Linked DNA regions of Homo sapiens: region 2 is linked to region 1. Evidence: fine-mapped expression QTL. A gene starts in region 1. The other region holds a variant in brackets. All regions are shown on one strand. Distances are between the middles of the regions.

Region 1 (5,383 bases):
CGTCTCCCGGGTTCAAGTGATTCTCCTGCCTCAGCCTTCCGAGTAGCTGGGATTACAGGCATGCGCCACCGTGCCCGGCTAATTTTGTATTTTTTTAGTAGAGATGGGGTTTCTCCATGTTGGTCAGGCTGGTCTCGAACTCCCGACCTCAGGTGACCCACCCGCCTTGGCCTCCCAAAGTGCTGGGATTACAGGCGTGAGCCACTGCGCCTGGCCCCAATGTTATCTTTTGATCCGCATCAAATGAAGATAGGATGGGCGGAGAAATATGGTTTTGTGAAGACTCCCTTCTCCATTAATGCCATGCTCATTCAGGTCTTATCTTTATATTCCAGTTCGTTATTTTGCTCTGTTTTAACCAAAAAAACCCCACACACAAAACAAAACACCATAACAGTTTTTGCATATCTTCTTCAGTTGAAGAATTGTAATGTATTTTGTTTATGATTGTAAAGCCAAGGACAATTCTTTTTTTTTTTTTGAGACTGAGTTTTGCTCTTGTCATCAAGGCAGGAGTGCAATGGCACAATCTCAGCTCACTGTAACCTCTGCCTCCAGGATTCAAGCTATTCTCCTGCCTCAGCCTCTCAAGTAGCTAGAATTATAGGCATGCGCCAACACGCCCGGCTAATTTTTGTATTTTTAGTAGAGACGGGTTTTGCCATGTTGGTTAGGCTGGTCTCGAACTCCTGGCCTCAGGTGATCCACCCGCCTTGGCCTCCCAAAGTGCTGGGATTACAGGCGTGAGCCACCGTGCCGGCCTAGCCAAGACAATTTTATAACTCTTTGTACGTGGCTATTACATGTAAGGCAATCTTTCAGTAATGACACATTACTCTTAAAAAAAAATCCTAGTTTTCCTTTCAAGTCAAATGTCTTGTTTGAATAAACTTATTTAAAATGAAAATAAATTGATTTAATAAACTGTGTGACTCAGGCATCTCAATTTGATCTGAGCCTTTTGAACTCAGCCATCTGAGTTCCATGACCCTCTGGGATGGCCTGACTCGTACGTGGAAGCTACCATTGCATCAAGGTAATTTCCCACCCCAATAAGTGTTTTACAAGTAATATATTATTAAATTCACACAACAACCTTATGAGGAAGGGATTATTATTCTTATCCTGTAGATGAGAAAGCTGAGTCTCAGAGAGGTTAATTGACCCAAGGTAGCATAGCTAATAAGTGAGGGAACTAGAATTCATGCCCATGATGATATGACTTTTTCACCAAACTCATTCATGTTTGTATCTTGAATACCTAAACGTGATGCCCGACACACAATTATTGTTTGATGACTTTAATTGAATCTGATTATTTGCCACGTGGCCTATAGTAAATTGAGACTCAGTTGCCTAGCAGAATGTATGTGGCTATTATTTAAAGTTCACAGATGAAAAAAATTTCACTCAGCATTTGACCCCTAGTAGTTGCTTTAAGAAAGACTGTCTACCCCTACGCTATGGCAGGTTTGAGAAAGGGCTTTCAGCATTTTCAACGCTTAAAGTGAGATCTTGATCCTATTTACCATCCTTCAGCCAGCCACAAAACAGGTGCATGCTGTTCAGGTCATGGCAAGATCCCGTCAATCTTTCAGCTTCAAACTACTTAAACAAATCTCTCTTCCATTTTATTTTTGTTAGACCAAACTATTTTTTTCAAAATATATTTTTTTCAAAATATTTGCCTGACTTTAGTAACGTGTCCCTCTCCCCCTCACTCACCCGCATTCACACACACACACACACACTTTCCCCCAGACACTTCCCCTTTTCGGTTGTTTACGCACGAAACCAGCCAGCCCTTTCCCTAGCGAAGTGTTTGGCGGTGTAGCTGTCCCGTCCCCGGCGCTTCCCACAGCAACAGCGCGTTCTCTTCGCCTCCCGCAGTCTCTCAGGACAGGCCAGGCTAGCGCAAAGTACCGTGTTCCTGGAACACCACGAGGGCGAGCTCGGGAATCTCGAGCCGGCCTGCAGGACACCTGCCGCACCAAGTGGCTAGAGCCCGGGGAGGGCGAGGCGAGGTGGGACGAGGCGGGGTGGTGAGCGGGCCGGGAAGGCGAGGCCGCGCGGACTCTGGGATAGCTCCTCAGGAGTGGGCGCCCGGAGTGGGCGAGCGGAGGAGGCGGGGCCGATGAGGTGAGGTGGGGCCAGCTGGAGTAGGCTAAGCAGTCCAGAGCAGGGGGCGTCCCTCAGTGGAAAGCCGGGCGACTGGGCGGTGCAACAGAGTAAGGCGGGGCCAGCGGAAGCAGGGAGATTTCCTTAGGCCGCAGGCGGGGAAATGGGGCTGGCCGGGGTAGGCGGAGCCCCGAGGCAGGGGAGGCGTGGCTGGCAGAGGTAGGCGGTGCCCCAAGGCAGGCGGGGCTTGCCGAGACAGGGATAATCCCTTAGGCCACAGGCTGGGAGGCAGGGCAGGCCGAGGCGGGGAGGATCCCTTAGGCCGCAGTAGGGGAGGCGGGTCGGCCGAGGCGGGGAGAAACCCTTAGGCCGCAGGCGGGGAGGCGGGGCTGGCCGAAGTTAGGCGGAGCCCCGAGGCGGGGGAGGCGGGGCCGGGCCGGCGCAGGGAGAGTCACTCAATGGACAGGCGAGAAAGCAGGACCGGCGCGGCGGGGCGGGGCCGGCCGAGTCCCTAGAGCTGGGGGCGGGGCGGACCCAGCGGACCAGCGGACCACCTGGGTGCTGTCGTAGTTGGAGGTGGCCTGAGGAGCTCAGTTCCCTCAGCGCCCGTAGCTTCGGCGGAGTCTGCGCGATGGGCGACCCGGAAAGGCCGGAAGCGGCCGGGCTGGATCAGGATGAGGTAAATGTTGCTGTTGCGTCTTCCCCCTCACCGCAGTCACGCCAGCCCGTTAGATTGCAAGTTGCAGGACCGCTGTAGGAAATGTTATTCGCCGCGGTCAGGACAGGCCTGTCCGCCCGCCCTCGCCGCAGCCTGGCTTCGTCGTTGCGAGCGCCGGGGAGGCCGTCCCCGGGGAGGGCGGAGGAAGGAGCTGACTTTGGGTTTGCGTCCCGCTCGCTGCTCTGCCCCGGGGCCAGCCAAGGACGACGCTTGGAGGCCTCAGGCCGGGGTGAGACTTACCCCTGCGTTTATCCGCCTCACGCTCTCCCACCCTCCTTCCCTGTTTTGGAGCCCTGGCCAGGGAAACCGAGGCAAGGAAAGAGGACTGTGGCGGCTCTGCTGGAGAGGTGCATACCATTTGGGATGGTGACAAGGAGTTGGAGAACGCGTGTGGAAATTGACACAGGTGGCTGGGGTGAAGATGACAGGTAGAAGGGGACACGAAATCCTCATGACCTCCTCCCAGTGAAAAAATCAGGGTAGGAGGCCAGTTTTGCTCAGGCCCGGCTCCTTAACTAACTGAATCTTCGGGGTGTCACTTTCTTCCTTTATACAATGGAAGTGATACTTCAGAGAGAATTAAGTAAAATGCTTTATGCAAAGTGCCACGAAAATTGTAGGTGCTTAATAAGCCCAAGTTGTTCATCCAAGTTGTTTATGCTGATAAAAGTACCTAAAATAAATAAACCAGAATTTGTTAGACTGTAGGATTGTATGGTAGTTTAAACTGTTGCTGTATAATTTTCAAACACTGTCATTTTGCAAATACTTCTAAGCCCTTTGTGGACAAGAGAAATGCTTTTTGTACTACTGGAACCTGTTGCTGTGGTATCTTTGATTTAATACTGTGAAGATTTGGGGGAAACAAACGTTTCCACCCCAAGAGATTCATGCTTGGCCCTACATTTCTTTAGAAAGTTGTAGATTCCAGGTTTGAGATTTTATTTTATTTAACTTGATTTTTGTAAGCATTTAGTAACTAACTGTAAATATCCCTCAAGCTTTTTCTTCCTGTTTTGAAACAAATGCGTTTAGTACCAACTTCCCTACTCAAAGGGGAAAATTCAGACTGCTGTTTATGCTAATGGCACCAGCAGTGATTCAGGCTTAACACCTGGATATTACATTTTATTTATTACTCCTATCTCAATGATACAGACCCGCAAGGACAGACAGAATTTTAGATTCAGAATGAATTTTAGTGGTCCAAAAGTTTTTAACTTGAGATGCTGGGTTGCCTGAAGCACTTTGTTTTTCTAGATGCCAGAGTGCATAATAGGAGACCTGCATCAGAGTCACTTGGAGTATTTTGTAAAAAATGTAAATTGCTGGACCAACACCCCAAACATAGTGAATCAAAATCTCTTGAGATCTGCATTTTTAACAAGTACTTCAGGTGATCCTGGTACACATATTAAAACAAAAACAAAAAACCCCCCACTGTCTTAAAGGGTCCATAGATAGACTAGAAGGGGCTTTATAAATCTCCTGAAGTGATATGTAGATTTTGTATGTGCAGATGTGAATCTTCTGAGAAAGGGGTCCATAGTTATTGTCAATTTCTCAGAGTTAACTATTGCTAATCTAATTCATAGTCTATTGTCAAGGTAAAGTTTAGGCCAGAAAACATTAAATGGCATGCCCAGGACTCAGTAGAGGAGCTAAATTTAAAACCAAGTTCTTGCACCTGGGCGGGTATCCCATTGGTTCCGTCAGACTTTGTGGGAATAGAAGTGAAAATAATACTTACAAGTAGTGTATGACTATGACAACATACAGCTATTTTACAGAAGTAGAAGAGACATAAAGGCAAAGAAACGGAAGTGGTGGAATTGGGGCTGGATAGGAGGTAAGAGCCTGGTATGATGCCAGCCTAGATTGGGGCATCGTAAGTGCTTGCTGGGAAATCTTGACCTAAATTGTTGTCCTGACATGCCCAGGCATGTCTTCCAACTGGGTGACCAGAAATTGAGTCAGTCGGAAACTGGAAGTACCATTCTGGAAAAAACAGCAGAATGTCACTAAGGAATGCCTACTGCTAAACTTTATTTCAAATTCTCATCACTTTACACCTGTGCGGCTATAATAATTTTGTTGTTTCTCTATCTCCTATCTTACCTGCCATTCAATCCTAATTACCATTGCCAAGTTAATCCTTCATTAGACCAGTGCCTCAGTGTCACTGACCCTGTGTCCCCCAAAAAACTCCCAAAAGAGTCTCAATTCCTACCAAAAAGCCTGGCCAACACCTCAGGCTGGTGAAGTCTTGTTGAAGCTGCTTTTTTCATGCTAACTGCCACATCTTAATTCAAGTCCTCATTTCCATCTTTGAAATTGGTTCCTTAGTTGCTTGCAAAATCTAGTTTTTTATCAATTAATCCTATACGTGGTTTTCTGATTAGTCTTCCTAATGCCACCTCTATTCATGTTAATTCCCATTCAGAAACTCTCCATGACTATTTGTACCCCCAAATCTGTGGGGTACAGATTTTCAAACTGTACCCTGCTATGAACGCCAGCACCTGGGGTTGGGGGCAAATGGGGAGA
Region 2 (5,383 bases), 34 kb after region 1:
TTTAGCAAGTACAGTCAGTACATCAAAGACTGAGCAGTTCAGTGGTACATAAATTTATCTCGCCCTGCATATTCCCAACATACTTAACACAGATGTTTTTTACCTGTTAACATCTCACCCAGCTAGTGTTCCTCAGAACAAAGATTGGAAAAAGCTGGCCGAGAACCATTTATACATAGAGGAAGGGCTTATGGACTGAGAAAGGGAGAACATGGTAGGGATTATTGAATCATTTCAAATTTATACCAGCCTGAATAGTGTACCAGCAATTGACTTAGGCTGTGTTTCTTTATGGTTTTAAAACTCTTGAGCTGTTATAAGAGATAGTTCTTTTAATGTGACTATGCAACATGATAGCCAATGGTGAGGGAAAAGGAGGTTTCTCTAGAAGAGTCTGATGAAAGGCCGGGAACCAAGGTTTTTGAGAAGTCTGCCCCTATTTATTTTTAGTAAGTATCAAGAGGTAGCCTGAGCCTAGTTAGAGTTAGACCTGTCTTTGGATGAAGAAGTCTTAATACTGAAATACTGAATTTTTAATACATTATTATTTGGTATTCTGTATACCCCTTCAAGCAGTTGTTTCCCATTCCCAACAAACTGTACTTTATACAATTCTGGATGCTAAAACTTAGAGATTTTCTCTTTGCATAAATTTTGGCTCCATTCTTTCCATAACAATCTAATCAAAACTGGGAGTTCTCAAGTGAATGCAAAAGGAGCAGGCCATAACTTTATTTGTTAGATACACTGTCAGAAACTTGAGATCTTTTGGCCTATGATAATACCATTAATTTTTGCATTGCTTCAGTTTGCCAAGTGTTTTTACATCATCTCATTTGATCTCAAAACAGCTTGACAGAGCAACTGTTATTGAAATATTACAGATGGAAAGAATGAGGCTCAGGGAAGTTAAATGACTTGGCCAAGATCTGCTCATCGTCACTGTCTGTACAGTATTTTTTTTTAGAGGTTGTAATGTCTCAGATTTAGTCCTTTACCATCTATGTTGATTTGCTTTTGTCTATTTCCTCATTAATTGAATATACTTTAAATATATATATTAAAGTATCAAAATATAGAGAGACATTTGAACTGTATTCAGGTAATATGTTTAAAGATATTTATATATTGCCATACAAAAACTTAACATTTAAAACTGATAATATCTGTAATGACATCAGAATGAAAGAAAAAAAATTGTACAGTGTATATTCCTTTGTTTTGAATCCAAATCTTTTTCATAGGTAATGACAGATGCCTTAATGTGAAGCTTATTTATAATAGCAATAAACCTAACTGGATTTGGATGAAGAAGTCTTAATACTGACATACTGGATTTTTAATGCACTGGTTTGTTATTTGGTATTCTATCTCTTTTTCCAGGCCTCCAGGTTGCACATTTATTTATTATGTTCAATACTTTGGTTCTTAGTTCTTAAAGAATCAAGAAGTTGTGTAATCTTTTAAAAATATTATCTTGCAGATAAAGAAAAAAATTAAGAGTGTGTTTACAACTGTTTTCTCTTTTTTACAGTACATGTATTTAAATCATTGCTATAATAAAGTTAAGTTCATTAGGAATATAAAAACTTGCAGTTCTATGATAGATTGCATTTATTAAAAATGTTTCATTGTATCACATAGAAATATGGCCAGGAAGGACTTGAGAAGACAGTTTGATCCATTGCTTTTAGACAGGACTGGGTTTTGCTGTCCAATTATATACAATAATAGTTTTTCTTACAACTAAGCTGGCCCCAGCCTTGTCTTGATATTAATACATGAAATTTTTATAATTGTCTCATTGTCTCATTTAGAAACATCCATATTTTTCTGCTTTTTCTATTGCCATTTTTTATTTGTGCATGAATTGATTATTGAGAAAATGTAGCAGTTTGCATATTTAAAAATTAATCATTTTGCATTTTACATTTAAATATGCTAACATCACTGTCATAGAATTCCCAAATTTCATTTGTAGATACTGAACTAAGGGCTAATGTCAGGAGCTGATTTTTAATGATAAAGCTGCAGATGGGCTAAATAAAAGCCAAATTAATCCTACAATCAGGTATTATGTTTTTAAACCAAGTTGAGTGAATTGGTAGTGGACTTGGGAAATCTTCCCCAGCAGAATCTGGATGAATGGCACAGAATTGAAATCTCTTTGTTTCCCACCATTTCCCTTTAAGTGCTCTGCTCCTTTGTAAAAAGTTAAAGATTTGAAAGAGAATCTCATATTCCCGAGGCATTAGGAAGAAAGGATTTAATCCCTTCAATTTGGGGCTTAATCTTGTTTAAAAAAATGTAAGTGAAGATGGAAGGCTGGAGAGAATGATTGCTTTTTGTACAGTTAAATAAGGTCACAATATTCTTACATACTTTGTTTTACAACTGTGTTTTCATTTTTTCAAATGTCTGGCCATTTAGCAAAGTTATTTACTATTTACTGTGTACATAGAAAGCTTTATTATGTGTGGTGTATCTAAATTTTTTTTGCTGAAATACATTATGGTCAATCAAGCCAAGCCTGCATGTACAGAATTTGTTTTTTTTTCAAATAAATTAGTTGTTTTCTTATTTTTTTGGCTTAGTATGTTGAAATAAACTATGGTATCTTCATCATTTTGTACATTTCCTTTTTGAGGAAGGTTTCTTTATAAGTGCAAGGGCTACCCTAATAAAGGAATGTATATACTTACTATTTGTGTCTGCAGATAAATACATACTTGTTTGTTCAACTAT[C/T]GCCCCAACCATAGTTTTTACATTAAATGAGACTCCCAGTTCTCTCACCTATCTTTCTCCCAATCCATAAGCCTCTCTTCATGTCTTTGTTTCCAGCTGAGATTCCACAAACATCATATTACTAGCAGTAGCACTCATACCAGTACCCTCAACTCTGTCCCTTATCTGCTTTTTACCATACATAGAAAAATTTAGAAAAATCCCCAAGTCTGTTTTGAATGAAACAACTTAGTTTTTCCAGTATTTGCACCCCAGCAGCCAAATGCTGCTAGAGAAGAAGTCATACAACAAGGCAATTGGATTCTCTACGTATTCATGATTACCCTATCTCAGCACTATCTGGTAATCCTACTACAATTTCCTGGTAAACTTGACCTCCACTGTGCACAATTGCTTTTTCACACCTCCTCTCTCTACCTCTACCCCCGTTTCCCAAAGAGGTGACCATATATTTTACTCTGTGGACTTTGCACACATAGAGATATTCTCAGAGTTAGTAGAAAAATTTGACGATATAAGAGCCCCAAATCTAGAACCTAAGAAGTTAACAGTAGATATGAATTCCTATGTGTGATTTCTGCTGTGGAGTCATTACAATCGGAGTGATTGAAAATATCTGGGACTAACAGCCATTTAATTCTGGGGACTGCTGCTCTCATTCCCAACCATGCGGTTCTCCCAGGGCTGCCAATACGCTAGTATGCACTGAATGTGTCTGGGCGCAGGCTTAAGCATGTGATCCAGACTGGGCCAGGTCCTTACCTAGGGTTTTCCTAATTGAAACTGAAGAAAGAGAAGCACTTTTATTCTAAAGACAAGCTAGAGAGAGTCCTAGTTCTAAACTCCTCTGAGGTCCAACTGTATTCTTTGCATAGTTTCATTTTCAAGGTAACAAATGCCACTTTCGGCTTAAGGTAGGTCAAATTAGGTTTCTTGATTTTCAACCAAAGGGATTCTAGTTAAAACAGAAATTGATCCCTGGAAGAAAAAAAAAGTACATGGAAATAATCGGTATTTATGTGAGTATCGGGCTCAGCAAGAAACAGTTGGCAATTCAAGTTAGGGTAATTCAAAAGAAGTTTGGCAACAGGACAATTTAGAAAGTTATGGACAGGAAACCATAGGAAATAGTGTAGTACATGGGGCTACCAATTAATTACAGGGCTGTTACCACCCCTGCTTAACTCCTCCCTTAAGCTTGAGGGAGCAGTTAAACCAGAGGGAGAGAATTATGAATAAGATGTGATCTTCATTTAGAGCGAGACAGCAAGCCTAAGGCAACTTCGCTGAGAAGGAGCCAGAAAATAAATACTCTCACCTTGTTCCTCTTGCCTCCTATCTCCTTCAGTGGCTCCCCATTAGCCAAAACCAACTAGGAGCAAGAGGGCAAGGGAGCTTGATGCCGTCCTTACAGATCAGCCTCCAGGCGTAGGGTGGAAAATGGATCTGGACGACATATAGAAGATGTGTCACAAAGAGTGTTGGAAATTATTGGTACTTTCCTCAAAGAATTACAAGAAAGAGATGAGCTCAGGAAAGAATTAGTGAGTTTGTAAGAAAAACCAAAAGGAAATCAGACTCAAAAAATTAAGTACCTTGCAGGCTGAAAAAGCAGGCTGATTGTAAACCCCCAAAATAAGAGTTGGGATTGAGAAAAATTCTTTTTTTTTTTTGAGACAGAGTCTCACTCCGTTGCCAGGCTGGAGTGCAGTGGCGCGATCTCGGCTCACTGCAACCTCCACCTCCCGGATTCAAGCAATTCTCCTGCCTCAGCCTCCCGAGTAGCTGGGACTACAGGCGTTCGCCACCATGCCCAGTGAATTTTTGTATTTTTAGTACAGATGGGGTTTCACCATGTTGGTCAGGATGGTCTCTATCTCTTGACCTCATGATCCGCCCAACTCGGCCTCCTAAAGTGCTGGGATAACAGGCGTGAGCCACCGTGCCCAACTGAGAAAAAATCTTGAGATAAGAATTCATCAAGACAATCTTGGCAAAGGTAAGAAGAGGGGTGTGAGAAGGTAATGTAAGCCTCCTGAGAAGGTGGGATGATGGAAAGCACAGGTGGAGGGCTTGACCTCAGACACTTCCTCTATTGTAGCAGGAGGGAAGCTAGGGAAGGTGGATGGATGGTGATGGGGTATGTCTGTAGTTTAGTGAAGAGACATTGTAAGCTTGTTGTTTGTTGACTTAATTTCTCTGTGAAAGAGATGATAAGGTCACCTCCTTGGGAAGTGGGGGTAGGGGCAGCGAGGGGAGGTGTGAAGAAGCAATTGTGGAGGATGGAGAGCCTAGTAGATTCAGTTTGCCTTAGTGTATGGTTTTTCTCTAGCAGCATTTGCTGCTAGGGTACAAATATGTAAAAACTGGATTGTTGCATTCACAATGGGTTTTTTCCTGGATTTTTCTATGTATGGTAAAATGTATGTATGTATGGTAAAATGCAGGTGAGGAACAGAGTTAAGGCTATTGATAGGAATGCTACTACTAGTAATATGATGGACTCCGGAATCTTAGCTGGATAGAGAGACGTGAAGAGAAGAGGTTCATGGATTGGGAGAAAGTAGATGAGTGAGAGAACTTGGGGGTCTTGATTAAGTCTAAGAACTGTGGTGGGGGGAGTAGGTGAACAAGTGCT

The links. PIP is the estimated chance that this variant, and not a neighbour inherited with it, causes the effect. A credible set is the group of variants that fine-mapping cannot tell apart.
Region 2: its variant is the best candidate, but not a certain one, in a credible set for the expression of RRM2B in blood mononuclear cells (TOPMed, PIP 0.68).

What each region holds. Positions count from the first base shown.
Region 1 is chr8:102,236,241-102,241,623 of GRCh38, reverse strand. It overlaps RRM2B (ribonucleotide reductase regulatory TP53 inducible subunit M2B), which reads left to right and starts at 2,663. Exons shown (of 9, transcript NM_015713.5): 1 at 2,663-2,797. The coding sequence starts at 2,750. It overlaps UBR5-DT (UBR5 divergent transcript), which reads right to left and starts at 2,173. Exons shown (of 3, transcript NR_125415.1): 1 at 1,924-2,173. RefSeq lists a silencer at 2,240-2,669 and enhancers at 2,740-2,839, 4,143-5,342.
Region 2 is chr8:102,201,821-102,207,203 of GRCh38, reverse strand. RRM2B (ribonucleotide reductase regulatory TP53 inducible subunit M2B) reads left to right here. Exons shown (of 9, transcript NM_015713.5): 9 at 1-2,702. Among named protein-coding and RNA genes, the nearest start is that of RRM2B, 34 kb to the left of the region's middle. The variant C/T (reference allele first, on the strand shown) is at 2,746.